4 linked regions of the Homo sapiens genome follow. The protein of the gene in region 3 interacts with the protein of the main gene of each other region in a pairwise test. Each region holds a gene or a part of one and is shown on either strand. Other genes may lie near its edges.

Region 1 (7,741 bases), on a different chromosome or scaffold from region 3:
AAATCAAACTGCTGAATTATCTAACACATTTATGATCAAAATATTGGGCAGTTTTGTAGAAGCATGAGAAAAAGCAGCAATGGATATTATGAAAACAAAACACATGAAGGGGAGAAAAAGGAGATAATAAATAATTCCAGGAATAAACAAAAAGCTATATAAGGAACTAACCATATATATTACTTGGCTTAACAGTGAATAATACTTTACGTAGATGTTATAATGCCAACATGAAACTTTGAAATAACCAACAATTCTGACATATTAATATTGAGAACACAAGGGAAGGGGACAGGCATTAGACATATGAAGGTCAGAAGTTCAAGACCAGCCTGGCCAACATGGCTAAACCCTATTTCTACTAAAAAATACAAAAATTAGCCAGGCATGGTGGCACACACCTGTAGTCTCAGCTACTCGGGAGGCTTAGGCAGGTGAATCTATTGAACCTGGGAGAGGTTGCAGTGAGCCGAGATGGCGCAATGCACCCCAGTCTGGGTGACAGCAAGACTCCGTCTCAAAATAAATAAATAAGTAGATAAATAAACAGAGAACTCAATAAACAGGAATAAAAACATGTTATTTAGAAATCTGGAAGTAAATATGACAACTACTAAAAAATGGAAGTTTGCTTGGGGGTGCTGGGTGTAGGGAAAGCCTAGAATGGGGATAGCTGTTTTCATATGACTTGGCATTTTAACACTATATGCAAATCCTAGAGTGATTTAAAAAATTAGTCATTTTTTTAAAAAGTATTACCACATTTAGATAATTTACAAATGGCCACAGCTCAAAATCTAACCATACCTCCTGTAAATTTTGGTCTTCTTGAGTCCAAGAATTTAAAACATGTGCTCCAGAGTCACTCACAATAAAATTCACCTAATAGATTCCAAAGAAACAATTAGTATTCAACTCTAATTTCACTCAATCACCAACATATTTTCAAGTAATATGCAATTTGTAACACTGTTTCACTGATTCATTCATTCTTCTTTTTATAGTTACAGAATGTGTAGTATATGCCAGGTGCTATTGCTGGCACTGAGTACATGGGAATAGAGTGATGAATAAAAAAGTTCTGTCACTCACAATGTGGGGAAAGTCAGGGGAGGGGAGTCTACTAGGACAGAAGGCACTGCGGGAAGAATACAAACAAATAAATGAACAAGATAATTTCAGAGAGTGATAAACGCTATGAAAAATAAGTTAATTAGCTACTTTAGATTAGGTGGTTACAGAAGGACTCTCCATAGAAGTGGCAACTGAAGGCAATCCAAAACCAGCCACCGTAAAGTCAGGGATAGACAATCTGGGTACGGCAAATAACAAATGCAAAGGCATCTAAGCATATACCCTGGAAAGGGTGAAAGTCAGAGCAGGCAGTGGGAGAGGAGACAAACTCAGAGAAAGAGGCAGGAGCTGGATCATATAGGGCACCGAAAGCCAAAATAATGGATATGGTCTTTACGCTAAGTTTTAAAGTAAAATGCAAATTTGAAAATTTAAAATTACCTGCTATCAGGTAAGATAATGACAAAGAACATTTTGGAAAACTTATCAAATGATGATTCTGACCCATGTTCCTTTTTGGCTAGAGGGTTAGATTTCTTTCTTTACTCTGGACAACACGATCTAATCTATGATCTTTTTCCCTATATATCGATGAAATACCAGTTTTCCTTCCTCCCCCAAGAAGTTTGATAATTGGTCTTCTCTTCCAAGGCTTATCTGACAGGGATATATTTTACAAGTCACTTTACGTAGATTTATCTCTTTTAAAGCTTACATCGAGGAAGTAAGTGTTATACTTACACGGGAGGAAACTGAGGCTTGGAGAGATTAAGAAATATGATCAAAGTCACACAGCTAGTAGTTAACCACGCCAAGGTCTGAACCGAAGCCTGCGCTCCAAATCAGTTACATTCCCTCTCATTATATATTTTTATCACACACAGAATGCACACAAATTTTAAGAAGGGCTTATATTTTAATTTGGAATATATGTGAATGTATAATATCAGACTATGTTCACCTTTACTCTACTGCCCTACCTTCCTCAGTCTAAGAATTGGCTAGGTCCCAGCGCTTCGAGTAAGACAGAAAGCAAGTCTTCCACTTGTGGCTAAACAAATGACTTTCCCAAAATAAGACATTTAAGATACTGAAATCTAAGATTAAACTTTAATACCTGTAATTTCTGTCAATCATCCATTTCTCTTCTTACTGATAAACCATATCCACTTAGCATTCTTAAAAGTATTTCTTTCTAATATGGCCAAACAATACAGCAGTTTAGTATATATTTGCTAAAATTGCAAGCAGCTAGCCAGCTTAGGTTCAAATTCTGGCTCTGCCTCTACGTAACTATGTGACTCAGGACAAGTTTCTTCTCTTTACCTCAGTTTCCGGATCTGCAACAGGGAAGCAACAAACAAGACTGACAGTCAGCTGCTACATGCCAGCACAGTTTGACAGCAGCTCTCAATGGTCAGTCTGTGTTCTATACTGGTTGTTACATACTTTGAATATTGCTTCAATAACTACAGTTCCTACCTAACATGACTGTTATGAGAATTACGGAAATTAATAAATATGAAGCACTTTGAAATATGTCTGGCACATGTAAAGTGCTCAATAATTGTTAGCTGTTATTATTACTGGCCCCAATTAAATATCCATTATATATTAATCCCAAAGGGCAGCGTTATGTACCACATTTTTAAGTAATAAACACACAGTCATTATCTATAGCAAATTCATATAAAAATTCATTTATGCAGTTAAGTACATCCCCAAAATCATGATTTTGTTTGTACTTCACACTCACCAGCTTTTTGAAAGGAAATATATCATACATTATTCTACAATATTCCATGGAAGATTCTACTGAGCAAGTCCACAATGATTTAGATATGGGGGCCAAAGGAATGATTCCTTGGGTTCTATTCTTCACCAGCATATCAAACTCGACATGCTGCCTGCAAGATTCTGCCATATAAGGGCAGTGATCCACAACAAACACTGTTTTATGAGATTCAGAAAAAATCTTCATTTTGTTTTAACCTGTAAGGGGAAAAACATATTAGCCAAATATTTGTACATAACATCTTACATTTTTTCTAATTTTCTCAAGAAGATTGTCTTTCCCTCAAGAAGACTTGGTAGGGAACATGAATAATATGTTCAAAGAAATCTGTCCGACAAAGGACAGTTTAATGAGGTCATGACCAGAAAGCAAGGGTATCAATACACCATATTAGGCTGTCACTCTACCAGGCCCAGACAAAAATACCAGTGCATGCATTTTTGGTTTTGCTTTTAAAATGAACTTAAAATTGTCAGAGGGAAACATTTTGACATTTAATTGTATTTGATTCCCTTACATATACGAAACATAAGTGACAAAGACTCTTGAAATACAACTTTATGATCCTTGCTAATTGACATTAGTCACATATAAACCCCAAGCCAGCATTTTTGCACTTCCCTCCAAGAAAAACGTTTGAAGGGGGACTGGCGGGTAGGGGTGCGGAATTAACAGGAAAGAGGAGTGACAGCAAAAGAAAAGGCCAAAACAAAGATAAACATCTCCTAAGATAACCGCACATCAGGTCTTCGCCTTAGGATAAGGACCCCAACTTCACACTCTCCCCTTAGCTTTTGAAACATCACAGTAATTTACCAGGTAGAGCAGAAAAACTTAGTTGTTACCATCACACTGGTGTGTAGAAGGAAATTTAAAACTTTTAAAACTTTTTCTTATTAAAACAGAGCATACGGTACTCCCCTGCTTCGCTAACAAAATCTTATACTGAATAGACAATCCACATTCGAAAAGCACATGGCAAGCAAAGCCAAAGTGTTAAATCAAAACGAACTGATTTCTTACGATCCAGCTATTTTCACCTCTTGCTTTCAAGACGCATCTCCCCTTCATGCAAAACTCTCTTTGAGAAACCTTCTAGACCCACTTTGCTGGAGGGTGGGGGGTGGAAAATACAAGGTGAGTGGATAGGGAAGACCTCAGGATCGAGGTTCGCTTACTTTCGTGCCTGGTCCTGCAGTGAAAACGAACAGAGGCTATGGACCACAGCCTCTCTGGAAAAGGCTGCTGGCTGGGCGGGGAGAGTCAGCGCACAGTCGGGAGTGTCTGGTGCCACAGACAGGGGACTATGCTTTCCCCGATCATCTCCTAGCACACCGGTCCTTCCCAGGCTTCCTAAGAGCAGGAGCGCGCGTGCGCGTGCACACACACACACGCACTCGGGCTCGCGCGTGCGCACAGCGCTCTCCGATAGCCCGGCCAAGCCTCCCTTCCCCCTCGTAGGGCCAGGCGTCCCAGTCGCCGAACAGGAAGAGGGCGGGGCCAAGGAGGAAAAAAAAAGCCTCCACCCCTCGAGATTTTCCACCCGCTAATTTTCCCAGTCACCCATTGGGAAGCAGGATCTGGGCGACCTGAAAGCCTCCCCAACAGCGAAGTACCAACCACGGCCCCCTAAGCGTACGACCCACCCACCCGGTCTCCCCTTCTCTGTCTCTCCACCCAGGCCGGTTTCCCCTGGAAAAACTCGCGAGACTTTGCGAGAGGCCGAGCGAAAGCCTGGGAAGGGAGGAATAGGGAGGGACATAGAAGGGCCCCGCCCTGCCTTCTGGGGCAAAGCGGAGAGTGGTCGGTTCTGCCCCACAGTAACGCGAGGAAAGAAATCTCGCGAGGCTGGAGTTCTCCGGGAGCGCCGGTCGGAGGCGGTCGGCGGAGGTGTCTACCCCGCCGGTGATGGCGTTGAACGCCACTGGCTTCCCGGCCTTCCGTCCGCTGCCTCCGTCCGATTCTGCGTCTGCTTGCTGAGGAGGCGGATTAGGGGGGCGCGGAGTCTCTTCCCTTGAGTGCATAGGTCCCGGTTGGTAGAGGGTTTGAGTCCGCATCGCCACAGCTGAAGGCTGCGAGGGACTAAGAGCAGAGTAAGTGGACTAAATCCAGGGACGGGAGCAGGGGTGGGCGAGTCGGAGGCGTCCTTTGCCGGGGCAGTCCTTCGCCGGGGCCGGTGCCTTGCGCCTCTTGAACCACCGGCGCCCGGCCCTGTCCGCTTCCCGCCGCGGGCTCCCTGCTCCTGGGAGCCGGACTTCCTCTCCGCGCCCCCCGACTCCGAGCTCCTCTTAATGGAGATGCGGTGCGGAAAGTTCAATGAAAAGCCTTGGCTCTAACCCTGTGGACACACCTTCCGTATCTGCTTTCATCCTGCCTTACCCACCTGCGAGTTCACCACCGGACGGGGGACCCTTTCAGTCACCTGTTTGCAGCGTTTAATGAAGATAACTTGTTTCTTGAAACTGCTCTCCAAGGGGTATTACTCTTTTCTGGTTCTCTTCCTGCCTTTCTTCTCTATCCCATCTCTGATAATGGTTCCAGTATCTGTCCTGCTATCCGAACTAGAAAACCAGGAATCATCATTGGTTCTTCATTTCCACTTAACACTGCACTGTATTATTTTTTTTTTCGCCAGAATTAGTGCGGTTGCCCCCTCTGCCCCCCGCCCTCCACTGGTTTCCCTACTATAATCCTTCCATAGAGTTATTCTGAAATACATATTTATCTCTGTCCTTTCCTTAAACTTTTTAGTAACCGTATTGCTGACAGCATCAAATCCTAATTGTTAAGCACATCATCATTCAGGATCTTTTACAGTCTGCCCCAATCCATTTTACCTTTTAGTCCTGCTTTAATATCCTACCATACAAGACTATACTGGCTATTTCCCCAAACATGCCATGCGCTTTGACAGCTCTGTACTTTTGTACGTGCGGATGTCTAGGATGTTTACTGTTCCTCTATTTTACCACCTGTCAAAACCCAATTCATAAATCATTGTCTTCTCAGACTCCCCCAGGTGACATTGATACCGCTGTGCTCCCAACGCATTTGAAACTTTTCTTCTGCAGTATTTATTAGGTTGTATTATTTGTTTCTGTCTCTCCTGCCAATTTGAACCTGGGTCTGTCTGGAATCATGTCTTACTCATCTCTGAGAAAAAGTCCAGTACTTGGCACATAGCAAGCATTATTTATATATACATATGTATGTTTATTGAAATGGAATAGTTCTAAGGAATTCACCGTAAGAGTTCTTCATCCTTTAAAATCATAGAATTTTGGGCCAGAAGGAACTCTGTACATTAGCTTAAAGGTCCCGACCTATTTTGATTATGAGAAACCCTGTACTTCTAATACACATGCAATTGGACTTTTAGTAATTGTTGGTTGAAATTATGTATAATGACAGAAAACTACTATGCTTTTAAATGATTTTGTATTTTATTTTTACAGTATCTATTTATATTTGAGAAATGGAGCAGAAATGTTTTAGACTACAGACAGTGCTTGGAGTATGTGCATTCAGGCAACTCTTCTACTGACTCCTTAGCCTGTAGGTTAGAAATAACTGGTTTAGATTAGGTTAGTTCCTTCTTGAACTGTCACAACTCTTTGAACATATGTATGTGAAACTTATATTCAGCCACAATTCTAAGGGAACGTGTAATTTTAAAAAAATCCTCCAGTGTCATTACTTCCAAAATCTTTCTTCCAAGTTTAAAAATTAATTTTCTTCAGAAAGTGTCTTTATACAGTTCCAAACATGTATTCATTCCACTATTTTCAAGGACAGTGAAAATTTTCTTTGCTTTCACATACAGCGATGTGCCTTTATAAATGCTTATTTTTATATGTAATTTATATGCGTTCTTTCTTGCATTCATAAGATTATAAGTTTATATGAAAACCATAACTATACCTTTTGGTTTTTTTATTTCCATATGGGTCAGTTCATATTATGTACTAATTAATATTAGAGACACATACCTGAACATGAAAAAATTTAAACTAGATTGTTGACATTTAAAGACAGATCTGTGGTGTATCAGTAGCCACAATATTTCTGTGTAGATGTAGTGGTAGGAGTAGTGGATTTGCAGATAAGGGAAACAGAAGTGTCCAATCAGTAAACATTCATTGATCTTACAATTAATGTGATGCCTAATTAAAATGGTTGCTAGGCTTTTATTAATTACCTAGAAAATATTTGAAATTTTTTTCGTCTTTAATTTCTCTTACATTTCATTTATATTCCTATTTATTTTCTGAGGTTGGCTTGAAAATTTTGACTTGAATTTCCTTAAATTTTTCTTAACCAAAATCTAAAAGTAAACAGCTGGCAGTTGCTGTCTTGGGTGGGTGGTGGTTTCTCTTTTATCAGCAGCAGAATGTTCTAAGCCTTCTGCCAGGAGTCTGACTGCAAAAGTCTTTGGGTGGTAAAGTGGGCGAGAATGTGACTAATGCAGAAAAGAAAAAAAAATTTTTTAACTTGCTAAAAAAAAAAAGAGATTCACCTGTAATTTGGACCCGCCTATAGAAAATAATGTAAGTAAGTGTATTATGGCCAGTTAAGGTAGGCACTATAAAAATAGGCCGAAAAGTTTAGAATATTCCTTTTTTACTGTAGTCTGTTTTTTAAAATTTGAAACTTGTTAGAGAGTTTGGAAAACAGTCTTCTTCCTCCCACTCCACTTCCTGGCCAAAAAAGAGGGGAAGCACAATGGTCTTCAAAAAAGGTGATAAAGTAAATGCATATTATAAAATATTTTAAACTTTTGTGTGTGTGGTTTCACGTACAGGAAATGAACATGCAAATTCTTAGAAACTGTTGTCACTGTGTTTCTGAAATGCTAAAAAAAATTATGCTTTG
Region 2 (7,708 bases), on a different chromosome or scaffold from region 3:
AGCATGCCTTGTGTTTAAGGAAAAATAATTGATGTGTGAATGGAATCAATCACCTATTGACGGGAAGGGTGTCAGGATGATGTAGGGTGATATGCCTTTAATTGGATAAAGAGAACTGTATTAAGTATAACTAATTTAATAACTGATTGAAGCACCATTCTTAATTTTAAAATATTTTTGTTAATTTCTTTTGTGGTTTTAAAAATTAATAATTTTTTTTTTTTTGAGATGGAGTTTTGCTCGTTGCCCAGGCTGGAATGCAATGGCGCGATCTCAGCTCACTGCAACCTCCGCCTCCTGGGTTCAAGAGATTCTCCTGCCTCAGCCTCCCAAGTAGCTGGGATTACAGGCGTGTGCCACCACGACCAGCTAATTTTGTATTTTTAGTAGAGATGGGGTTTCACCATGTTGGCCAGGTTGGTCTCGAACTCCTGACCTCAAGTGATCCACCCGCCTCGGCCTCCCAAAGTGCTGGGATTACAGGTGTGAGCCACTGTGGCCGGCCTAAAAAAAATTCTTTTTAATAGTTATCAGACTACTTTAACCAGTGCCATGTTTAAACATACTTGGACAATAGACTCAGTTTTTTTAATAGTTTGAAGTACATTATATTAAAACTACAAACTCACTTATTCAAGCCTAAATTTCATCATAGACTATAAATTGGGTATCAATTTCCTATTTTGGTGGACAATTCCAGTCTGTCTACTACGACAATCATCTTTTTAGGTGTAATATTGTTTAAGACATAGGTAATTTTAGGTTTTATACTTTTCTCCTAGGCTTATGGAATGAAAGCTAATAGGATATCACTTTCAGAATGAAATAGGGAATTATGGCTAGCCTTCTTATAGGGCTGCCGTAAATGATACTTAAATGTTTGTTATATCACTGATTTTCTTTTCTCTTCTGAAGCTGTTGTGAATGTCCACTTTGCCATGATTAAAAGTTGAGATTTGTAAACATTACAATTTGAACCATAAATTTTCTCAAACATGAAATCAGTATGAATAAGTATAAAATTTGAAATGATCATACATGAGAATCCCAAAAGTAAATACTTCCAAACCATAGAGGGATAACCACTGTATTTTTAAAAAGCTTATTTCCACCCTTAAAGAAGCATGCTACTAATTGCTTTTTTTCTAAATTAAAACTATGTACTGTGGTAAATTAAAAATCTGCAGGAAAAATTGCTTAGTGTTTTAGCACAATAAGAATTTTTATTACTCAGGAGTTGGAGACCAGTCTGGGCAATACAGTGAAACCCTGTCGCTACTAAAATACAAAAAAAAAAAAAAAAAAAAAAAAATTAGCCAGGCATGGTGGTGTGCGCCTGTAATCCCAGCTACTTGGGAGGCTGAGGCAGGAGAACTGCTTGTAACCTGGGAGGCGGAGGTTGCAGTGAGCCGAGATCGTGCCATTGCACTCCAGTCTGGGTGACAGAGCAAGACTCATTCTCAAAAAAAAAAAAAAAAGGAATTTTTATTACTATTTCCTGAAGAATGGTTTTTGTTAACTTGTTACTGTATCATTAAAAAGACCTTCTAATGGTTCAGTACAATAATCTAGAACTTGATTTATGTGGCTTTTTATAGTTATCTGAATGCATTCCTTTTGCCACATAGACCATATGGCTAGTTCTCCAACTTTTTTGCTTATTTTTAATAAACCTTGCTGTTCAACAATCAGAGAAACCTTTAGATTTTGGATGATTCTTCCAGTTGAGGTAGAAACATCTTAGATAATAGGAAAGGCAAATACAAAGTCCTAACATTTTCATAGTAGAGTTTACAAGTAAAATAACTTATCCATATAGGTTATCTTCGTTGTGTAGCACCAGTATAAATAGTGATTTCATTAATCATTGAATCAGATGAAGCAGTTATAAATCACTTTTTACTTTGTGCTAAGAATTATTGTAATTTCAGGACACTTTATTATTTCCTCTGAGCAGTTTCCATTGGAAGGTTGAGTTTCCCTTTTTTAAGTTCTAATCATCACTAAAGGTTAAGATAATCAAATAGGAGTTAAAATAAGTTATGTTTGATCTTTTTCCCTTGAAAATAATGCTGAACTTATTGTCTACATTCTGATTATTAGGCAGAAATGCACTTGTTTAAATCATAGAAGTAATTCATTTGGAGGATATAATTACTCGATTTTCTAGTGGTGTGAAATACTTTTTAACAATTGTGCTTGTCTGTAACTGAAATGTTATAGAATTTTAACACTATAGGGATTATAGAGTTATATTAGCTCTCCTCAAGAGACTGAAGCACAATATTTTTCATGTAACAATTCTTATCCAAGTGCTGCTAATCTGTCGTGCAAATAATGAAGCTATTTGGTTGCCTATTTAGCTATTCACAAATCACTGTAATCTTTGAAACAATCTTGTCGTTCATTTGTATTAATATTTGGATATTGTGAGTTAATACTTTAGAAAAAAATCCATCAACTCAGCCCCGTTAGCAAAACTGTTTGGATTCATAGTTTTTATATGTGTTAACAGTAGAATAAATTTTGAAGGGGCTATTTACTACCAATGACTAAGGGGAAAATTATACTGTCACTATCATTTGACTTGAACATTTGTGGTATTGTAAAAGTCTTGTCAGTTGTGTTCTAAATTGCTTAAGCCATACGTTCTCTTAAACAGGATGTTTTTTTCTTCCTTTCCAGCAGCCTTTTTCTTCTTTGTCTGTTATGGTTAATACTCCATAGATTTTAGAAATTGAGAAGTTCTTGAAACATTTTATTTTCTTGAGTTCATCACTTTTGACTCTTGTATGAGATGTGATTTGTCATAAAAGATAGCCTTCCACTACTTCACTAAATGAATTTCAGAGTAAACACTGTGATTCTGCAGAGCGGATTCAGTAGGCTTTCCAATGTTTTCTCCTGCTATACAGTGCCTACCACCTTGAGGGCACTTCAGTACTAGAGGATGAAAACTGAAACGTTGTTTTGATGTTTATTGAATAACGAGATTAGAGAATATTTGATTTTTGTTGTCAGTGTATTAAAGAAATTTTCACATTGATAAATGTTCTCTAGGAATGTGTCTACATTCATCAGGTGTGAACTCTTGTACATGAATTTTGTACCTTGAATCCACATATATATTAAGTGTATCATCAATATAAAAATAAACATTATTTGCTTAAAGTTTTTGGTACTTTTTCGGTATTGACAGCTGAACTGTTAGGGTTTGCTTCATTCAAATATCTCAGAGGCTTTGAACTATCTTGGGGTTGATGCTTCTTGTTAGTTTGTCAATGTTTGAATCCTGGTTTTGGTTTTTTCCCTGCCCTGCTCCTGCAGGTCAGAACTGGAACACGCGAGGGAAGGGACTGTTGAAGAATTGGGTGGAATCTGCTTATTCTTGGGCTTGTGTTGAGTCTGGGGATGGAACCAGAGTTCCTTAAGGTGGAATGGCTGGCTTGGCATTGACGAGTTCAGGGACCTGACTTAGGGTACTGATTTGGACCGTGACTTTTTGTTTGAGATAGAGTTTCGCTCTTGTTGCCCAGGCTGGAGTGCAATGGCGCGATCTTGACTCACTGCAACCTACACCTCCCGGGTTCAAGCGATTATCCTGCCTCAGCCTCCCAAGTAATTGGGATTACAGGCATGGGCCACCATGCCCGGCTAATTTTGTATTTTTAGTAGAGACGAGGTTTCGCTATGTTAGGCTGGTCTGAACTCCTGACCTCGGGTGAACCACCCGCCTCGGCTTCTCAAAGTGTGGGGATTACAGGAGTGAGCCACCGCGCCCGGCCTGGACTGTGACTTGGAACAAGATAGTTTTTCCTCTTTTGTTTATTTTCCTACTGCCTGCATGATTGCTATTTATTTAAAGAGACGGAGTCTCGCCACGGTGCCCAGGCTGGTCTGGAAGCCCTGGTCTCAAGAGATCCTCCCACCTCGGTCTTCCGAGTAGCTGGGACCACAGAAGCGCGCGCCGTGCACTTTTGATGTTTTCAACTTCCTTCCTAAGCAGAAAGGAGACGGCCCAGCAGCGGATGGTGAAGCTAATCCAATATAGTGAGCTGCCACCAGCGTTTTTAAGTGCATTACATAGTAAGAACGTGGTTCTGCTGGACGTTATGTACTCGGTTGCGATATAAAACGCATCATCTACAGTAGGTGACAGGCGCCAAAGTCTAAAAACTGGTCTCAAGGTGTAAGGTCCCAGGACTAGTTTCTGGAGCTACTGGCTTGTGAGTGAAGCTGGAGGCGCAGACTTCCCGGGTCACACGGTGGCAAGGCAGCTGCCTAGGGTGCGGCGGGACCGGGCGGCGCGGGGGGGCGCCTGGCCAAGCAGTGCAGCCCCGGCCGGGTTTGTAGCCAGCACAGCACAGCGGGGCCTGTGGCACCGACTGGGTTCTTTTACTTTTGACACGAAGCCCCTCCCACTTACCACGCTCTGCACGCGCCCCTGTTAAAATAGAAAAAGACCGAGAGGCCTCGGAGACTCAGTCATCATCTGTGGCTCTGGCCGCTCGCTGACGTGGCGAACTGGGCTGAGGGAGCGCCCGGCTGGGCACCCGAGAACTCCAGCCGTTCCGGCCCAGTCGCCGCTCAGAGGTGGTAACAGTAGCCGCCAAGGCCGCGCACGGGCGCATGCGCGCGTCGGACCAACCCCCTCCCCCCACCGCGCAGTCACTTCCGGCGCGCTGGGAGACGTGCGGTTCCGGGTCGCTGCTCGGCTCGCCGGCTGGGCGGTGGGGGTTGGTGACGCGGGCCGGGGCTCACGAGAGGCCCGGGAGGCGGGGCTTTGCTGGCTTCCCAGAGAGAGGCAGGTGCGCGGGCCAGGACTCCGGGAATGCGAGCAGGCCCCTTATTCTCCCAGTGGCCTCGGTCTGTCCCCACAGCGGCCCGGTCAGGGTTGCCCGAGCCCCAAGGCGGGGGGCGGCACCGGGGTGCTGAAAGGGTGAGAGTGGGGGCGGAGGCGGGCTGCCCCGGCCTGGGAGTCTGGAGCCTAGGGTTCCGGGATTCCTCCCTGCGCGACCTTGGACAAGTCGCTCCTCCTCTCTAGGGCTCAGTTTCCTTGCTGTCAAATGGGAGAGATGTTGGATCCTTCCTTTCTTTGACAGTCCAAAGCACGGGCGGGGCTGGAGGTAGCCTGAGGGAGTGAGATCCAAACTGCCGTGGCAGGCACCTGCCTGCCTCCCTGGGGGTTAGACATCTGTCTTTACCCAATTTTGCCTTGCTTTTTGTCAGTGCACATCCGTGACCAGACGCCCAGGGTCTGGCCGGGTAAACAGTATGTGAGTGTAGTAATCAACTGAGAAATAAATACTGGCTCCAGGAAAACTTAACCTCATTCAAATTGTTTTGCTCAGGGCTCCCAGGGAGAAGTGAATTTAGGCACCCGCTGCGGTGATCAATTCTGTTCTATGCGCTTGTAAGTGAAGCTCTTAGGCAAAAAACAATTTCATAGGAGATCAGGGTTAGGGAGGGTATCCCATTGAGAGTTGTGACAGGTTTTCTTACCCCCTTTAATCCTTCTTCTGCCCCTCCTCTTCCTTCACTTCTTCCCCCTATCCCCACCCAACATTTTGGCCATACACTTGAAAAGAAATACCCAATGCATTTTATCTTTGTCTTCATGCAGGACAGAATGCTTTGACCTCCAAGCTGTTTTAAATCTAGTAGATAAGCCAGGTGAGTAAGTGGTTTACACACATTGAAAGTAAAGTTTCTGAAGAATTGTACAGCCTTAATGGAGGATCTGAAGTGGTAAGATGGCATTTGTGTATCTCAGAGCAGAGCTTAGGTATCCTCCACAAAACATGGAAAGTTAAGGTTGGAACCAGAATATTAGTGTTTTATACACCATTAGGAGGAAAAGGTTTTTGAATCTTACTTTGAATATCATGTCAAACATTCTTAAGAAAAGAAACTGTGAGGCCGGGCGCAGTGGCTTATGCCTGTAATCCCAGCACTTTGGGAGGCCAATGCAGGTGGATCATCTGAGGTCAAGAGTTTGAGACCAGCCTGACCAACACGGAGAAACCTCGTCTCTACTAAAAATATAAAATAAGCCGGGCATAGTGGCGCATTCCTGTAATCCCAGCTACTCGGGAGGCTGAGGCAGGAGAATCGCTTGAACCCAGGAGGTGGAGGTTGCGGTGAGCCGAGATAGTGCCATTGCATTCCAGCTTAGGCAACAAGAGCGAAACTCCATCTCAAAAAAAAAAAAAAAAAAAAAAAAAAAAAGAAAGAAAGAAAATAAACTCATTGGAGGTAATTTTATCAAACTCAAAACCACACAGCGTCTCTAGAAAATGTTCAAGGATATCAGATACTTATATAATAGAGTTGTCTGGTGTGTCTTCTTTTTTCTGTTACCAGCTTTTCCTATTGGACAGTTGATTGCAAACCATCCTGAAACAGTAGGATATTACACCTTTTACATATTGAATTACATATTGAATATTGAATTACATATGAATTGAATTACATGCATTTTTGTCTTCAACTTAAAGAACACTAAACTGTAGTTAAGCTTATTGGAGGAAGGATTTGAAATCATTAAGTCATGAATATATGATGTTGATGTCTGCTCTGGGACATTTTACCAAGTGTGTTATATGTCATAGCCAACATGTAATTAAAAAAAAAAAACGTAGAGATTTGTGAATCAGAGTCCTCTGTTCAAATACCAGCCCTTCCACTTAGCCACACAATCTTTGGTAGGTTACTTCATCTTCTTGAGACTGGGTTTCTTCATCTGTATATGCATATGAAGCACCTGAGTGCTTTTTAAATGTTTAGTAATTGTGTTCTATAAGTGTACATGTAAGTTATGAAACTTAGTTTTGAAATCTAAAACTTAACAACTCAGATGCGAAATCTTTCCAATGTTTAACTTTTGAACTGTCTCTTTCATCTGATTTGTAGATCCTGTGTTGCCATAAGCCCTTGGCCCACATTTAAGTGGGAATGCAGCTAGCTTGGATGTCTGAAACTTTGTAGGCGCCTCTGTCTGAATCCTGAACACAGGCACCAGGACTACTGAGAGCTCGTCATCTGTGCAGGATAGCCACACAGCAAACATGTTTGCAAAACTGAAGAAGAAAATTGCAGAAGAGACTGCTGTTGCTCAGAGGCCAGGAGGTGCTACTAGGATCCCACGGTCTGTGAGCAAGGAATCAGTTGCCTCAATGGGAGCTGACTCAGGAGATGACTTTGTAAGTACCTTTACTTAAGAAATAAAGATACTTTTGCAGGGTATTCTTCCAATAAATATTTTAAATTGCTTGATTATTTCATACCTTTCATGGTTTATAGCTGTACAAGAGCCTGTACATCTGATTCTTCTTACTCTGAGGTACCTTTTTGTTAATGTTTGGTTTGTAAATGTTAAGGTACTCTATATTTTTTTCCTTATTTTTCTGTGAGTTCCTCTCCATATTCTCTCCAGTGTCCTCTTGTACTGTTTTTCCGTCTATATACCTTATACATCTTCTTTTGCATTTCATTTCTGAAAATGTCTGGGCCTGTTTTCATTGCAGACATATATACTTATATAACAACTAAGTCATTGCTGCTTAACAAGGTCTCTGAGTTGTGGTATGGGGTTAGCAAGAGTGCATTGTTGTATTGGGACGATTGTTGGAAAGATGGCCCCAGTGATTACAGTATGTTGCTTTTTTTCTTTTTTCTTTCTTTTTTTTTTTTTTTTGAGATGGATTCT
Region 3 (7,020 bases):
AGATCATATTATGAATGCTAGGCCAGCGAAATAAAACATCTGTGGAGCAAAGCAATCCACATGTTGCCATTTTGTGACCTTGGCCACAGCTTACTCTTGCCATCTATTGCAATGTACTGGTTTACATTCCCACTTAAAGTGTACATTTCATTGAACTTGCCTAGGGAATGTACCTATTAGGTTAAATATCCATTATCTCTGTGTGAGGTTTCCTTAAGGGGCTAACCATAAAGCTTTATTATGTGATACCTCCTTTCCTTTGGAACAATTAAAAAGAGTGCAAAGAAATGTGTGCTCCTATTTAAATATATAGGATTTTTTCCCAGCCTGTGTCCTGCAGCTTCACCGCTAAAGCCTTAACTCACATTTCAAATTGGTCTGATCTGTTAGCCCAATTTTTTTTTCTTTTTTTTTTTTTTTTTTTTGAGATGGAGTCTCACTAGGTCACCAGGCTGGAGTGCAGTGGAAATGGAGCAAGAGTGAGTGGCCATTTGTTACTTAGTAAAATAGGATTTTGTTGTCTGTCTAGCCCTGTTGACTAGCTCAAATTGAGCAGTTTTTCTCCAGTATTTTAAACTAACAATTTGAGTAATACAGAACAGTAATCCTAAGATTTCTATCTGTTGTGCTAACTTCACTCCTATCTGAACTGATAATACTCTCGCAGACATTAACTTATCAGTTCTCTGATTTCACTAGTGTAGGACTCACTCATCTTCTTGTTTAATTTTAAATCTCCAGACCTCACTAATTGAAGGTCTAACTTGTGCTAGGCAATATTCTACACAGAGAAAATTAAAAAGATTTGATCCCTTTCCCTTCAAAGTTTACTCTCTGAAATAGAAGTTGACTATGCTATAATTGCCAAGGGCATGTGACACTGTGCAGTGTCCCAGCTTTGTTTTGTTTTGAGATGGGGTCTTGCTTTGTTGTCGAGGCCGCTCTTGAACTCCTGGCCTCAAGCAATCCTCCCACTTCAGCCTCCCAAAGTGCTGGAATTATAGGAATGAGCCACCATGACCAGCCTGTCTCAGCTTGCTTTGATGGTAGATTTTGCTGCCTCTAAACAGTCATTTAGCCAAACCGATTTGAAAGTAGAGTGCTACTAACAGCTAAAATGGAGGTTTCTTTCTTAACATATGAAACCCATTAGAAAAGAACAAGTAGAGAGAAGTATAATGTGTTTCCCCCCCAACACCCATCCCTACCCTGTAAAGTACATAAAGATCTTTCCTTTATTACACAGTACACCATAGGGAAGGTTTAGGAGACATTGGTGCCTTAACCTTACATACTTGTATTGGGTTTTGGCCAGGCTTATGCACCAGGGAGACCAAGGATAGATTTCCATTAATAATGCCTTATAGCAAAATTGTATTATCTTTTATAAGAGTTACTATCTGGGTGATCATGCCCCTCTGACACCAACACATCCTAATAACTCCAGCTTCTACAAAAGCAAGAGTTAACAGGAACTCTGAACATACATGCAGTGACAAGAAGGCAGAACCAGATGCAGGCACTTAACTAGCACAAACCACAAGTCAGGCATGCAAGAAAAGAGCTTTAATGGAGCCTGCTCATGACTCTTCAGTGTCTTCACCCATCAATTCTGAGGGCAATAACATAAAGCATACCAGCCCAAGGTTGTAATTTAGTGGGAAGCTGGGGCTTCCTTCTGCCTCCTGCTGCTTAGCAGTGGCTCTCTCCTCACAGATTTTAGCTCTGCAGGCAGATCTGGGAGCTGTTTGATTTCTTTCTGCTTTGCATCAAATTCTACTCCCATTTACTGCTGAAGAGAAGCAGAGCTTTCTGAACTATCCAAAAGTTTCCATTGTTGTCTGCTCAACTATAATGCTTCCTTAGAGGTGGAAGACAGTTCTTGATGGTCTTACACTTGGGAATGTGTTGCTCAGCCACCTTGGGAGCAAAGTGGTGGCTACACTGAGGACACTGAATGCAGTCTGGGTTTTCTGCAGGCAGGATGGGAGGCAAGTGTGAACAGTTTCCACCTTTGGCAGTTACCTGCTGGACCTCTCGAGCCTGGCGGAACGTATGGATAAAAGATTCATGCTTCTATCTCCAGTTGCTCTTCTGAGGAGGTTCAGCCTGTAATGTAAAAGGGAGACTGATCATTCAAGTTGGCACCTATCTCCTTCCTGAGTCTCTTGTAGAATAACAGTAAGAAAATGAAAAGGGTACTAATCTGCAAGGTCAAAGAGAACAGGAAAGGAGCAACAGCGGTAACTGACTTGCCAGCGTTGAGGCAAACCAAGGGCCTGCAAAGGAGGTACTGCTGAGAGGCAAGCCACTTTCCCAACAGAACCTGAGAGGTTCAGTGCTTGGAAGTACCCGATAGTGGAAAGTAAGGAGGTACAGGACTGAAAACAAGTAGGACCCCACGGCTCCTCCCACCTTATGCATCCAAGTGTTCAACACCCAAGCACACTCACAGAAGAGCAAGGATTTATTCTCTGGAGAAATTGAACCACACAGATTTCTGACTCAGGAAATCTAGACACGTGGAACTGGGTTAATCTTGGGGCTGAAAATGGGGATTAAGTACAAGTGTACATACCAAATTATCGAACTGTCAGCCTCCTTCCCCCACTCAGCCCCCAGAGTACCAAGCATATTGGCATCCTCATAGGAAAAAGAGGGGTACTCTGGATACACAGAACAGTCCAGAGAAAAGCCTTCAGATACTGACCTTGGGAAACGCTAATTAAAAGACTCACTATCTGGGAACCTTAATATGAAGATCCTTAGTCAATGAGCCCCACTTAAGCTTAAATATGAAAGGACAGCCAGGAATCATCAGATATTTGCTAAAAGCTCTAACAAGAAAAAGAGCCAAAAAGTCCACAAACAAAAACTTAGGAGGCAGCAACAAGGCAGGTGGCAGAAGAAAACTTTTTTTTAACATGAGACCATATCAACAAAATGAGTATTAGAAGAGATTGTGTCCATAAAACAAGAAGAGTATACTGTGAAAAAAAGACAACCAGAGAACCAGAAAGAACTATTGTAAATTAAAACTTTGATAGCTAAAAATAAAAATTATTTAAATAGAGGCCAGGTGTGATGGCTCACGCCTGTAATCCCAGCACTTTGGGAGGCCAACGTGGGGAGATCACAAGGTCAGGAAATCAAGACCATCCTGGCTAAGACGGTGAAATCCCATCTCTACTAAAAATACACAAAATTAGCTGGGCGTGGTGGCACACGCCTGTAGTCCCAGCTATTCAGGAGGCTGAGGCAGGAGAATTGCTTGAACCTAGGAGGCAGAGGTTGCAGTGAGCCAAGATCATGCCACTGCACTCCAGCCTGGGCGACAGAGCAAGACCCTGTCTCAAAAAATAAATAAATAAATAAATAGAAATGTTGTAAACTAATGTCAAGAAAATTTCTCAGAATGGGAAAAAAGATCAAGATGGAAAGTAAAAAGAAAAGATTAGAAAATTAGAAAGTTAATCCTGGAAGTCCAACATGTGACCAATAAGAGTTGCAGAAGGAACAGAGAAAGCACGAGGAGAAAATTATTGTTGTTTTGTTTTGTTTTGTTTTTGTTGTTGTTGTTATTTGAGATGGAGTCTTGCTTTGTCACCCAGGCTGGAGTGCAGTGGCGCAATCTTGGTTGACTGCAACGTCAGCCTCCTAGATTCAAGCGATTCTCCTATCTCAGCCTCCCAAGTAGCTGAGACTACAGGCGTGCGCCACCACGCCCGGCTAATTTTTGTATTTTTAGTAGAGATGGGGTTTCACCATATTGGTCAGGCTGGTCTTGAACACATGAGATCAGGTGATCCACCTGCCTCAGCCTCCCAAAGTACTGGGATTATAGGCGTGAGCCACAGCACCTGGTGAGGAGAAAATTATTAAGGAAATAATACAATTAACATTCCTAGAATTAAAGGTCACACATTTTGAGATTGAAATGGCTTACCAAGTATCTAGCACAATTATTGTAAAGTTTCAGAATTTCAAAATAAATAGAGAATCCCGTAGCCTTTTAAAAAAAAAGGTTTCTTGTAATGGAACAGGAATCAAAATGGCATTAGATTTCACAACAATACACTGGATGCTAAAAGCTAGTGGGAAATACTTTAAAAGTTCTAACAGATAATCATTTTCCTCCTAGAATTCTGTACCTAGCCAAATCATCAAATGGGAGCCTGTCATATAGATAGTGTCATTCATTCCAAGACAATATACCTGCTATGCACCCTTCTTAGTAAGCTTCAGCAAAGGAAGGAGTAATGCAAGAAAAAGGAAGACACAGGATGCTGGAAACAGAGGACCCAACAAAGAAGAGAAGCAAAGAGAAGTTCCAAGAGAATGAGTTTGCACCAGGCCTAGAGAATACCCAGTCCAGGTTGGAGCAGAAGGGATCAGAGTGGCTGAAGGGAGGTTTTCAGAATTAAAAAATCAAACTGATAGATTATGAGAGGTGTTTGAGCATTACAAAAACGTTAACAGATGTCTGATATCAGATGGATCGTTGCGGGGGAGAAAAAGACAGGTATGTAGAAAATGAAGGAAATGAAAACATACGTCCATTATTAATTTTAGGTACATGTGGGCAGAGACAGAATTTGTTCACTCATTAATGAACAAAATTTACTTGATCATTACAATGTGAAAGCTAACTACTTTTAACCAAAAATTGTGATTCGACTACAGTGGAAGGATAAGAGAAAGAGAACAGTAGGAGAGAGGGAATATGAAAGAGAACTTCACTCCCAGCTTCCATAAGAAGTTACCAGGTAGAACAGGCACCGTGGCTCACGCCTGTAATCCCAGCACTCTGGGAGGCCGAGGTGGGCAGATGACTTGAGGTTAGGAGTTCAGGACCAACTTGGCCAACTTGGTGAAACCCTGTCTTAACTAAAAATACAAAAATTAGCCGGGCGTGGTGGCACTCGCCTGTAAGCCCAGCTACTCAGGAGGCTGAGGCACAATAATTGCTTGAACACGGGAGGTGAAGGTTGCAGTAAGCCAAGATCAAGCCACTGCACTCCAGCCTGGGCGACAGAGACTCCGTCTCAAAAAAAACAAAACAAAACAAAAAAAAACAGGTAATGTAGAAAATTGATAAATCAAGAAAATAAGCATATTATTTGGAAATATGGAAAGGCAGACCAGAAGAACCATCTAACAGAACTGAAGGCTGCCTCCGGGGGCTGAATTAGGGGTTCCATTATAGGTCATTCAGTACTACATGTTTTTTAAATGCATGCAAACACTATTAAATTTTTTAAAGAGAAAAAAGACAACTAGCTCTTGGTGATCTGGCATTGTTAATGATGAATAATAGGAAGAGATACTATCAAAGGAAAAGAAAGGATCCTTCCAGAAAGTCTCTTGCCAAAACAGACAAGAAGGCAAGAGAGTATTAGCGATGGTATCCAGGAACCTTTAAAAGAATTCGAAGACCAGGCACGGTGGCTCATGCATGTAATCCCAACATTTTGGGAGGCTGAGGCGTGTGGATCACAAGGTCAGGAGTTCAAGACCAGCCTGGGCAAGATGGTGAAACCCCGTCTCTACTAAACATACAAAAATTAGCTGGGTGTGGTGGCGGGCACCTGTAATCCCAGCTACTCAGGAGACTGAGGCAGAGAATTGCTTGAACCCGGTAGGTGGAGGCTGCAGTGAGCCAAGATCGCTGCAGTGAGCCGAGATCGCGTCACTGCACTCCAGCCTGGGCAACAGGGCGAGACTCGGTCTCAAAAAAAGAATTTGATCAGGGGAAAGTTCCTCTCAAAGAATTTGATCAGGGGAAAGTTCCTCAAGTATATGAGATCCTTTAGTAATTTACTTCTTATACTCTAATTCCTATAATTTTATTCCTCATTGTACTGAAATTCTATTCAGTTAACACTTATTAAGCACAAAGCACAAAATATGTTCCCTGTCCTCAAAAATGCTTACAGTCCAGGAGAGAGACAGGGTGTACGTCTGCTGGGAGTTACGTGAAGATTAAAGGATACCAGGAAAATCACCTGTTCTTGAGTACTCTAGAGGAATGACAGGAAGGTACAACCACTCAGCTTCCAAAGGCACAGCACTGTGGAATAAGATTTGAGACATTACCAGGGTGGTGCAGGTGCATCTTAGTCTAGGTCCCTTCTGTCTTGGTGTCCTCAATGTCACACATTCCCACAAACTAGTTGCCATAAAGCTGGAGCATCTGATCTCAGGAACCTAATTATTTTGCTTCACCGTAACTGTATTTACGAATTTAAGAAACACAAGATTCTTTTAGGCTCTGGCCAAAAATAAATCGCTACAGTGGGACATAGAGTGAATTCCCAGTGGATTACTGGGTTGAACTGAAAGAAAACAGGAAAAAACAGTAAGTGGTGATCATATTATTATCTGCAAGAGCAAAATGCTGATTTCTTCTTTGGAAACTAGATTTCAGGGAGATGATCTCTGAACATGGATGGGACTTCCTTGTGATTTCTCCAAACTACTAAAAGAAAGAACTCTAATTGTAAACAATTTCTTCTAACAACCATCATATAAATGTGAGTTTTTAAAGGCTCCAGCAAATACACAGAAACTGTAAAGTGCCAATGGACAAGAGGTGCCAGCACAGCGGAGGGAGGGTTGGGAAGAAATGAAAACAGAATGACACTCTCTTATTCTTCTGGAATATTAGAACTAGATGGGGCCTCTGAGATCATATGATCTACGCTTTCCCAAACTTCAATCATCTGCACTTTCACTTCATCCTTACAACTAATTAATATTTTTCTGTAAATTCATGATCCCTGGAAATCAGGGGCTTAATATATTGTTATATTTTCCTAATATAACACTAAACGACGAATCAATTTTTCTAATACAACACTAAACACTAAAACTACTAAAATAAAGTTTGTCAGCATGCCACACCTTGAGAAATAACCATTTTATAAACCAAGTGGCACAACCTTGACATGTCATTCATTTATGAGACAATCTTCTCCAGATATGTCCAAATGTGCCTATGAAGTTCACCTAAATTTATCA
Region 4 (7,936 bases), on a different chromosome or scaffold from region 3:
GGTAAAATTTCACCAAGTTTCTAGAAACTGGTGAAAGAGCAGTGTCACCTCTTCCTCCTACCTCCACTCCATGTTCCAGGTCAAACTGTGGACTCAGTAGGTTGTCCTAGGGTTAGGCACAAGAAGGAAAGGATTTATTTTAGGACCACCCAGAAATTCATTCACCTCACAGAACTTCCTGTGCCTAGGTCAGTGGGTCTTTATCAGCTTTGGATGGGTCATTTGGCCCAGTGCCTGGAAGAACTGAAACAAAAAACAGTCTATGAGACTGAACTAGACTTAACTAAGAACTGACAAATCTCGAACCAAGCTTGGATAAAAAAACTACGTGGGAAGTGAGACAGGCACAGCCTCATCCTGGGGGGATTTGGGAGGATGTGGAGGGAAATGACTGGGGGGCACTTGTGGAGCTCAATCTCTGTGATTAGTGTGACATTTTCAAGGAAAGGACATGAGGCCAGGATTAGGCTCAGGAGTGAGAAAGCAACAAGACCTGGGAGAAGGGGAACTGGGTTCAGGGAGGTCGGCTACTAAAGTATTAAACCTGGAGGAAGAGCTGAAAGGAAAAGTAAAGTGCATCTCTTTGGAGAAAAGTGGGCTTTTGCTCAAGACTCCCCACAAACTTGAAGTCCCATGTGGATTGGCATGACCCAAGGCCCAAATCACTTTTTTTTTTTTTTTTTTGAGATGAGTCTCACTCTATCACCCAGTCTGGAGTGCAGTGATGCGATCTCAGCTCATTGTAACCTCTGCCTCTCAGGTTCAAGTGATTCTCCTGCCTCAGCCTCCTGGGTAGCTGGGATTACAGGAGTGTGCCACCACACCCGGGTAATTTTTGTATTTTTAGTAGAAACAGGATTTCACCATGCTGGCCAGGCTGGTCTCCAACTCCTGACCTCAAGTGATCCGCCTGCCTCGGCCTCCAAAAGTGCTGGGATTACAGGCGTGAGCCACTGTGCCAGGCCCCAAATCATATTATTCCCCCTTTTTCCCTCCCAATATTCAGTCCTCTGACAGAGAGGCTAGACATAAAATGCTCCTTATTGCTGGTGCCCACGGCTGTCCTGACCCTGGTCATGAACTCTTGCTCAGTCAGTGAAGCTGAATGAATGAGTTCATTGCCATGTAGGGCCAATTGGCACTAGATGCTTGGAAATTACCCACCTTGGAGAGGTTGTAAAATAGATCATGTCCTAGTGCCACCAGCAACTTAGCTTTCTGGGGGGTCAGGAACTCTTACCAATTGCTTTGGAAATTTATGGCTGCCTGCCAGTACCACCACCAGCATGTCACTGCCACCATCACCACTACCACTGCACTCTAACTTTAGGCTCCATTGCACCCTGCTTGCCCACTCAAGCCAGCAAGGGGAAGCATCCTCCCTGGTGAACTCAGAGCCACTGATATGTTTGTGATTTCACAAACATTCATGACAGCTCCTAGGTCTCGTCTCCTAATTACATAAAGGCAAATGAAATGCAACCTACTGCAACTATATTTCAAAGCCAACATTTTTCACTGGATACACTTAAATTATACAATAGATTTTTGAATTTCAGAGGGTAGGAGAGGGAATGGGTAACAATTGGGCAGTGACAAGATGGCTGGGGTGACTTTTCAGGTTGCCAGAGGCTTCCTAAGGGTGAAGAGAGGGAGAAGAGCAGAGAGAGAAAACCCATAGCAGCAGCTGGGGCAATCTGGAGGGGAAGTGGGTTGGCTTCCTGCCAGGGCCAGAGCCAGAGCCTAGAGACCAGGGACAAAGCTGCAACCTTCCACCGAAAACTTCTTTGAAATCGGGATCTCCTGTGAACATTTCCTTCAAATCTCCCTGTGTGCTGATCCCCAGGGCTCTAAGGGGCAACTACAAATTTCCATTTCTGTTTGTTCCAGCATTTACTTTCACCAACCACCACCCCCCTTTTTTTTTTCTGAATCAGTCTCACTCTGTTGCACAGGCTAGAGTGCAGTGGCGTGATCTTGGCTCACTGCAGCCTCCGCCTCCTGGGCTCAAGTGATTTTCGTGCCTCAGCCTCCTGAGTAGCTGGGATTACAGGCACACACCACCACACTGGCTAATTCTTGTATTTTTAGTAGAGACAGGCTTTCGCCATGTTGGCCAGGATGGTCTCGAACTCTTGACCTTATGGGATCCACCCACCACGGCCTCCCAAAGTGCTGGGATTACAGGCATGAGCCATCGTGCCTGGCCTAATTTTTGTATTTTTAGTAGAGATGGGGTTTCACCATTTGGCCGGGCTGGTCTCAAACTCCTGACCTCAAGTGCTCTTCCCACCTCAGCCACCCAAAGTGCTAGGATTACAGGCGTGAGGCACCACACCCCGCCTGACCCTGTCTTTTCACAAACATTTCTCTTAGCCATCAAGGTCACATTCTGGGTCATAGGACATCAGAGGCAAGATGGTTCAGAGTTACATTGATGATTTGATGGCATTCATTCTCATGGCTTCCACCTATTGCCCTGCACATGTTGGAAGAATCAGTGGCCCACCATTGCTAACAATCCTAGACACTGGTTTCCACTAGGATGTGTTACTCTCATCTTAAATTCAGTATCTTCAAACTACGATCACTTTTCTTTCCTCCAAACCTGCTCTCTTCCCGACTTCCCCATCCTGGCTCAAATGCTGGAATCTTCCCTCGTGTCTCCCTTCATCTGGTCCCTCATTACTCAGGCAGTCACCAAGCCTCATTACTCAGGCAGTCACAAAGTTCCCTGCCTATCCATGGTCACTGTCACCACCAGAGCCCAAGTCTGCATCACTTTGCAATGTAGAATTTGGAAGGGACTTTAGATGACACATAGACTCCCAGTGGTGTCATGGGATTTGCTGGGTCATAGTGACAGGAGGAGCTGGGGCTACATTGCCTGTGTTCTGACACCGTATTCAGCGCTCTCACCCACAATACCTTCTTTCGTGTATGTGTATATGCTTCTACTCAAAAACTTGCAATACAACCTCATAACCAGTCATTTGAGCCTCTCCCTAATTTGTCCACAATCTACCTCTCTGAATTTCGGTCCCATTTTTTCCTGACACAAAAAAAAGAGCTAACATTGATTGAGCATTTACCATTTGCCAGACACTGTTCTAGAATGCTTTACATGCACTGACTTACTTAATCCTCACAAAGTGGGATGGAGAGTCCTGTTATTCCTGTGTTACAGCTGAGGAGACTGAGGCAGACCGCTCTTCCTGAGCCTGAAATCTCTCTCCTTGCCTTGTCTCTGTTCTTGACTCCTGCCCCCCACCCCCGCCCCCACCCCAATGCTGTTCAGCTTTTGTCTTTTCCAGCCTCTCCTCTGACTGTCTCCAGCAGCCAGCTGTCTTTTCCCTCCTCCTAGCTGGAACACACATCATCCCTCTGTCCTGCCCCTTGGCACTTTTTCTGTCCTGGCTTGTGACGGTTCTCTGTTTGGGGGCTTGTGTCCCATTCTCCAACAACCTCAGTTGCTCCTTAGTGGACAGCGTCTGGGTCTTACCTATGCCTTTGCTACCTGGGCACCTCCGCAGTGCCTGGCACACAGCATTCTCCTGTCTCCTTTCTGTCTAGTGCTTCTGTTTCTTTCTCCCAAGCATCCCACCAGCTGGAGACCCTGGTCAAGAGCTGCGGGTCAGATGGTGACGGGGACCAAGCTTTTAGATCAAGGTGGCGCAGGTGGAACTTTCAGGTCAGGCTGACGGCTCTTTGCCTGTCACTGAGAGCTATCAGACTTGCCTCCAGGCCAGGGACTGACTTCCTTTGGTGCTCTAAAGATAGGTCCCGATTTACCTCACCCCCACCCTCATCCAGTTATGGCCTGACCATCACCAAAACAAGCCCAGGACCCATTTTCATTTATCCCTTTAAGAAAGGTTCTTTCTCTTCCTGCCCACGTGCCCTCTACCGCTTGACAGAAGCCTGCTCCCCATTGCCAGGTGCTTTTCTTCCTCCTCCTCTTCTTCTTTTTTTTTTTTGAGACAGAGTCTCGCTCTGCCGCCCAGGCTGGAGTGCAGTGGTGTGATCTTGGCTCACTGCAACCTCCTCCTCCCGGGTTCAAGCGATTATCCTGCCTCAGCCTCCTGAGTAGCTGGGATTACAGGCGTGTGCCAACATGCCTGGCTAATTTTTGTATTTTTAGTAGAGATGGGGTTTCACCATGTTGGTCAGGCTGGTCTCGAACTCCTGACCTTGTGATCTGCCCACCTCAGCCTCCCAAAGAGCTGGGATTACAGGCGTGAGCCACCACACAAGGCCCTTTCTTCCTCTTCTGTCATCTGTGGATTTCCCATCTGCCTCAGTGGAGTCCTTGACCTTTTCCTCCCTGGCCCAGCAGCACATTCTCCTCTCCTCCTTTCTCCCAAGTCACTGACCTAGTATTTAGTGTGTGTTCTCAGCCTCACCATTGACTTGCTGTGTTACCTTGGACAAGTCACTCTCCCACTCTGACCTCAATTTTCACATCTCTAAAAGGAGACTGCTAGACTAGACGGTGAGTGAAGTCCTGCTGAGCCCTCCGAGTTCATTCTCCCTTGTCCAGTCAGTCCTTCCCTCCCACCCTCCCCTCTGGGCTCCCTCTCTGGGGCCCTCTCCCCCAGGGGAGGCCTGCTCCAGCCCCAGGGGAGCTGCGGCCCTGGCTCCTGTTCCCAGTCGGAGTGACCAGCCCTGGGCCTCCTTCCCAGCTTCGGCCCTGGCTCCATGTGGCCCATCTGAGAGGCTGGCCTCAAGCCCGGCGGCAACTCCACATTTCTGTTTTTCCTTTTTTTTCCCTCTTTCCCGGAGTTAACAAGAAGCAGATGTGGCGCACGATGGTTGGAGAGGTGGGGGGAGGAAGGGGGAGGCCGGACCGCCAGCCAGACAGGGGGGAAGGGAGGGGAGCCAGCAGGGAGGAGGAGGCCAGGGCCCGCCCCACAGCCACTCTCGCGCCTCCGAACAGCCACAGGGGCAAAGCCCTGTCACCCCCAGGATCCGGTCATCAGGGAAAGAGGACAGGGAGACCAGAAGAGGGCCAGCTGGGACGAGGGGGCGGACGCCCAGGAGGCAACTTCTGAGACGCAGCTCCTGAGAGGGGCAGGGACCAGGCGCGGGAGGCCAGAGGGGGCACAGAGAACAAACCCCCTCAGAAGTGAAGAGGAGAGCGGAAGGAACCGAGAGGGGACGGACAGGAGCTGAGGAGGAAAGAGGAGGGGAGAGGGGTCAGGCCAGGCAGCCAAGGAGAAGACGTGTGGCCGGGGGCTATCAGAAGGAAACTGGGACGGACGGGCCGGGCTCGGGCTGTCCTGTGGAGCAGCAGCATCCCCGGGGCCGGCAGAGGCGCCAGTGGCTGGGCGGGATGAGTCTCTGAGGGCCACTGTGGAGCGCCCCGCCATGGCCCCCCGCACCCTCTGGAGCTGCTACCTCTGCTGCCTGCTGACGGCAGCTGCAGGGGCCGCCAGCTACCCTCCTCGAGGTTTCAGCCTCTACACAGGTTCCAGTGGGGCCCTCAGCCCCGGGGGGCCCCAGGCCCAGATTGCCCCCCGGCCAGCCAGCCGCCACAGGTAAGAGTCTGGATCCCAGCCCGAGGCTTGGGTGGTGAGGAAGGGGTCAGAATGCCACCTCTGCCTGGCTCTCTGCTGTGTCCGCTAATGCAGGGCAGAGGGGGAGTGAGAAGCCCATCCATCAGGTGGCTCCTCACATGCCCACCTTCCCACGGGGCCTTTTCCAGGACCCCCTGAACACATATGTTCCTTGGGTCACCTAGGGGGTCCGCTCCCACATGCCCCAGGGAAGCTGCCCTGAGGGGAGCGGGCCAGGCCTTCCTGCCAGCTGCCCTCTGTATCCTAGCCCCAGAGCCTCAGGGAGAACTTTTGTCCCCTTCTAGGGCTCCCTTGACCCCATCCAGTAATCCATAATTCTGACACCACTCCAGCTCTGTTCCCTCCAGCCCTCCAGCCAGACACAGATCAGAGGCCGGAGTGAATGGGGCCAGGAGTATAGAACTGCAATCCCCAAGAGGGGCAGGCTCATCAATGGCTTATTCTCTACTTAACCCCAAGCTGGCCTGCCCGTCTTCTCCTGGAGGGGTGGGGTGGAAGCCAGTGTTCAGATCACCCACAGGGCCCGGGCTGGCTATGCGCACACAGCATGCCAATCTGGGGACTGAGACAGGCCCAGAAAGGGACACACATGATTGTGTACATTCAGAGGCTCCCCGGGACCCCACCACCATGAGGATTGACTGCTCTGTGGTTTTCCATTCTGCGCGTCTCCCCATCTTGAAAAGTCTTTATCTGCTCCTGCTACACAGGAAAGCGTGGGGGATAGGGAGGGTGGCGATGCCAAAGCCCTTGCTCTCACTGATCCCCAAGGGTTCTGCATCTTTGGAGCCTTCTTCAGCCCCTCTGGTAGCCCCTGGGCCCTCCTCCAGGGCATGTATCTTTGGTCCTTGGACCCAGAGGGGGTTGTACCTACAGGAACTGGTGTGCCTACGTGGTGACCCGGACAGTGAGCTGTGTCCTTGAGGATGGAGTGGAGACATATGTCAAGTACCAGCCTTGTGCCTGGGGCCAGCCCCAGTGTCCCCAAAGCATCATGTGAGTCCCAGGGCCGGGCAACGGGCCCTTGGTGGGAACTGGGCGAGGGCAGATGGTGGGTGGCTGACTCAGGGAGTCTGTATGAAGCAGGGAGCAAGGGCAGGACAGGGGCTAGGGTCACAGCCATTTTGAGGAGATACTGAGACAACAGTTTGGCTGGTGGGAGACTGAGGGCAAACCTGCCTCACGCGCCAGCCCCAGATGCCTTCTCTGGGATGGCTCAGGCTCAAGCAGAGGAGTTCAAGGTTCCAGCACAGGGCAAGGGAAGGAAGAGCAGGGATTTAACCCTTGGCCAAAAAGCTGACAGCTGTCAGCTAAGCAAGGCCACATGTTGGACAGTAAGAGGGACCCAGCCTGAGGGACAGGCCATGCCCACCAGCAGCTGCCCACCCCTGAGGACAGGGACCAGGGTCACTGACCGTACAGGGAGGAATAAAGAGGCCTCCTTCTGCCTCTGCCAGGTACCGCCGCTTCCTCCGCCCTCGCTACCGTGTGGCCTACAAGACAGTGACCGACATGGAGTGGAGGTGCTGTCAGGGTTATGGGGGCGATGACTGTGCTGAGAGTCCCGCTCCAGCGCTGGGGCCTGCGTCTTCCACACCACGGCCCCTGGCCCGGCCTGCCCGCCCCAACCTCTCTGGCTCCAGTGCAGGCAGCCCCCTCAGTGGACTGGGGGGAGAAGGTGAGTGTGGGAGCTGCTGCGAGGGTGGCAAGTTCCAAATGGTGATCCAATGCAATGGGAAATGTGGGGCCAGGCTGCTGGGGGAGTCCCCCGTGCTCTATGCCAGAGAGAAGAGAGGGGCAGAAGGGTTAGTGAGATCGCAGAGATTCCCTGCCCGTGTGTGTGTGTGTGTGTGTGTGTGTGTGTGTGTGTGTGTATTTGTGTGTCTGTGTGAGAGAGAGGGAGAGAGCACGCAAAAGATGGAGAGACTGAGAAAAAGAAGGCCAAAAAAGAGAAGGTGCTCGCACACGCCCCATGTGGCCAAGATCCTTCAAACAGCTGCAGGAGAAAGGGGCATTCCTTTGAGAAGCTTGGTCCGTGGGGACAGACAGTTGAGACTACAAATCCTAGCATGCATTGCACCTGACTACAGATCCCAGACCCCTCCGTGGCCTCTGGAGACCGCAGGTCCCAGCATGCAGCAGTTCCTGTGGCTTGCCTTCCCTCCTGCGTGCTGCACACCGGATGTGCTGTTTCCCTGCCCCGAGATAGCCTTACTATAATTATGCAAACAGGAACTCCTGGCCAACTCTCACCGTCCACAGAGCCTCTTCTTTGTCCCCGTGGTGTTGCAGGGAAGTGTCACCCAGTGGTAGCTACTGTTGTGGCATCCAGAGTGCCTCCCTACACTCCCATTTCGCCC

The links.
Region 1: the proteins of ZC2HC1C (region 3) and FGFR1OP2 interact in binary tests that used the Homo sapiens proteins (3 or more experiments, as listed by UniProt).
Region 2: the proteins of ZC2HC1C (region 3) and GOLGA1 interact in binary tests that used the Homo sapiens proteins (3 or more experiments, as listed by UniProt).
Region 4: the proteins of ZC2HC1C (region 3) and EMILIN1 interact in binary tests that used the Homo sapiens proteins (3 or more experiments, as listed by UniProt).

The regions. Positions count from the first base shown.
Region 1 is NC_000012.12:26,933,749-26,941,489, forward strand, and holds the start of FGFR1OP2 (FGFR1 oncogene partner 2), read left to right. Parts: upstream 1-4,721; 5' UTR 4,722-4,962; intron 4,963-7,741. Other genes in the region: INTS13 (integrator complex subunit 13), read right to left, coding at 808-882, 2,831-3,055. UniProt on the Homo sapiens protein: May be involved in wound healing pathway.
Region 2 is NC_000009.12:124,938,071-124,945,778, reverse strand, and holds the start of GOLGA1 (golgin subfamily A member 1), read left to right. Parts: upstream 1-4,695; 5' UTR 4,696-4,808; exon of another isoform or gene 4,809-4,939; intron 4,940-4,973; exon of another isoform or gene 4,974-5,413; intron 5,414-5,623; 5' UTR 5,624-5,673; intron 5,674-6,912; 5' UTR 6,913-7,067; coding exon 7,068-7,202; intron 7,203-7,708. UniProt on the Homo sapiens protein: Involved in vesicular trafficking at the Golgi apparatus level. Involved in endosome-to-Golgi trafficking. Mechanistically, captures transport vesicles arriving from endosomes via the protein TBC1D23.
Region 3 is NC_000014.9:75,072,621-75,079,640, reverse strand, and holds part of ZC2HC1C (zinc finger C2HC domain-containing protein 1C), read right to left. Parts: intron 2,110-7,020; coding exon 2,077-2,109; 3' UTR 1-2,076.
Region 4 is NC_000002.12:27,073,699-27,081,634, forward strand, and holds the start of EMILIN1 (EMILIN-1 precursor), read left to right. Parts: upstream 1-4,916; 5' UTR 4,917-5,367; coding exon 5,368-5,537; intron 5,538-6,452; coding exon 6,453-6,572; intron 6,573-7,033; coding exon 7,034-7,254; intron 7,255-7,936. UniProt on the Homo sapiens protein: Involved in elastic and collagen fibers formation. It is required for EFEMP2 deposition into the extracellular matrix, and collagen network assembly and cross-linking via protein-lysine 6-oxidase/LOX activity.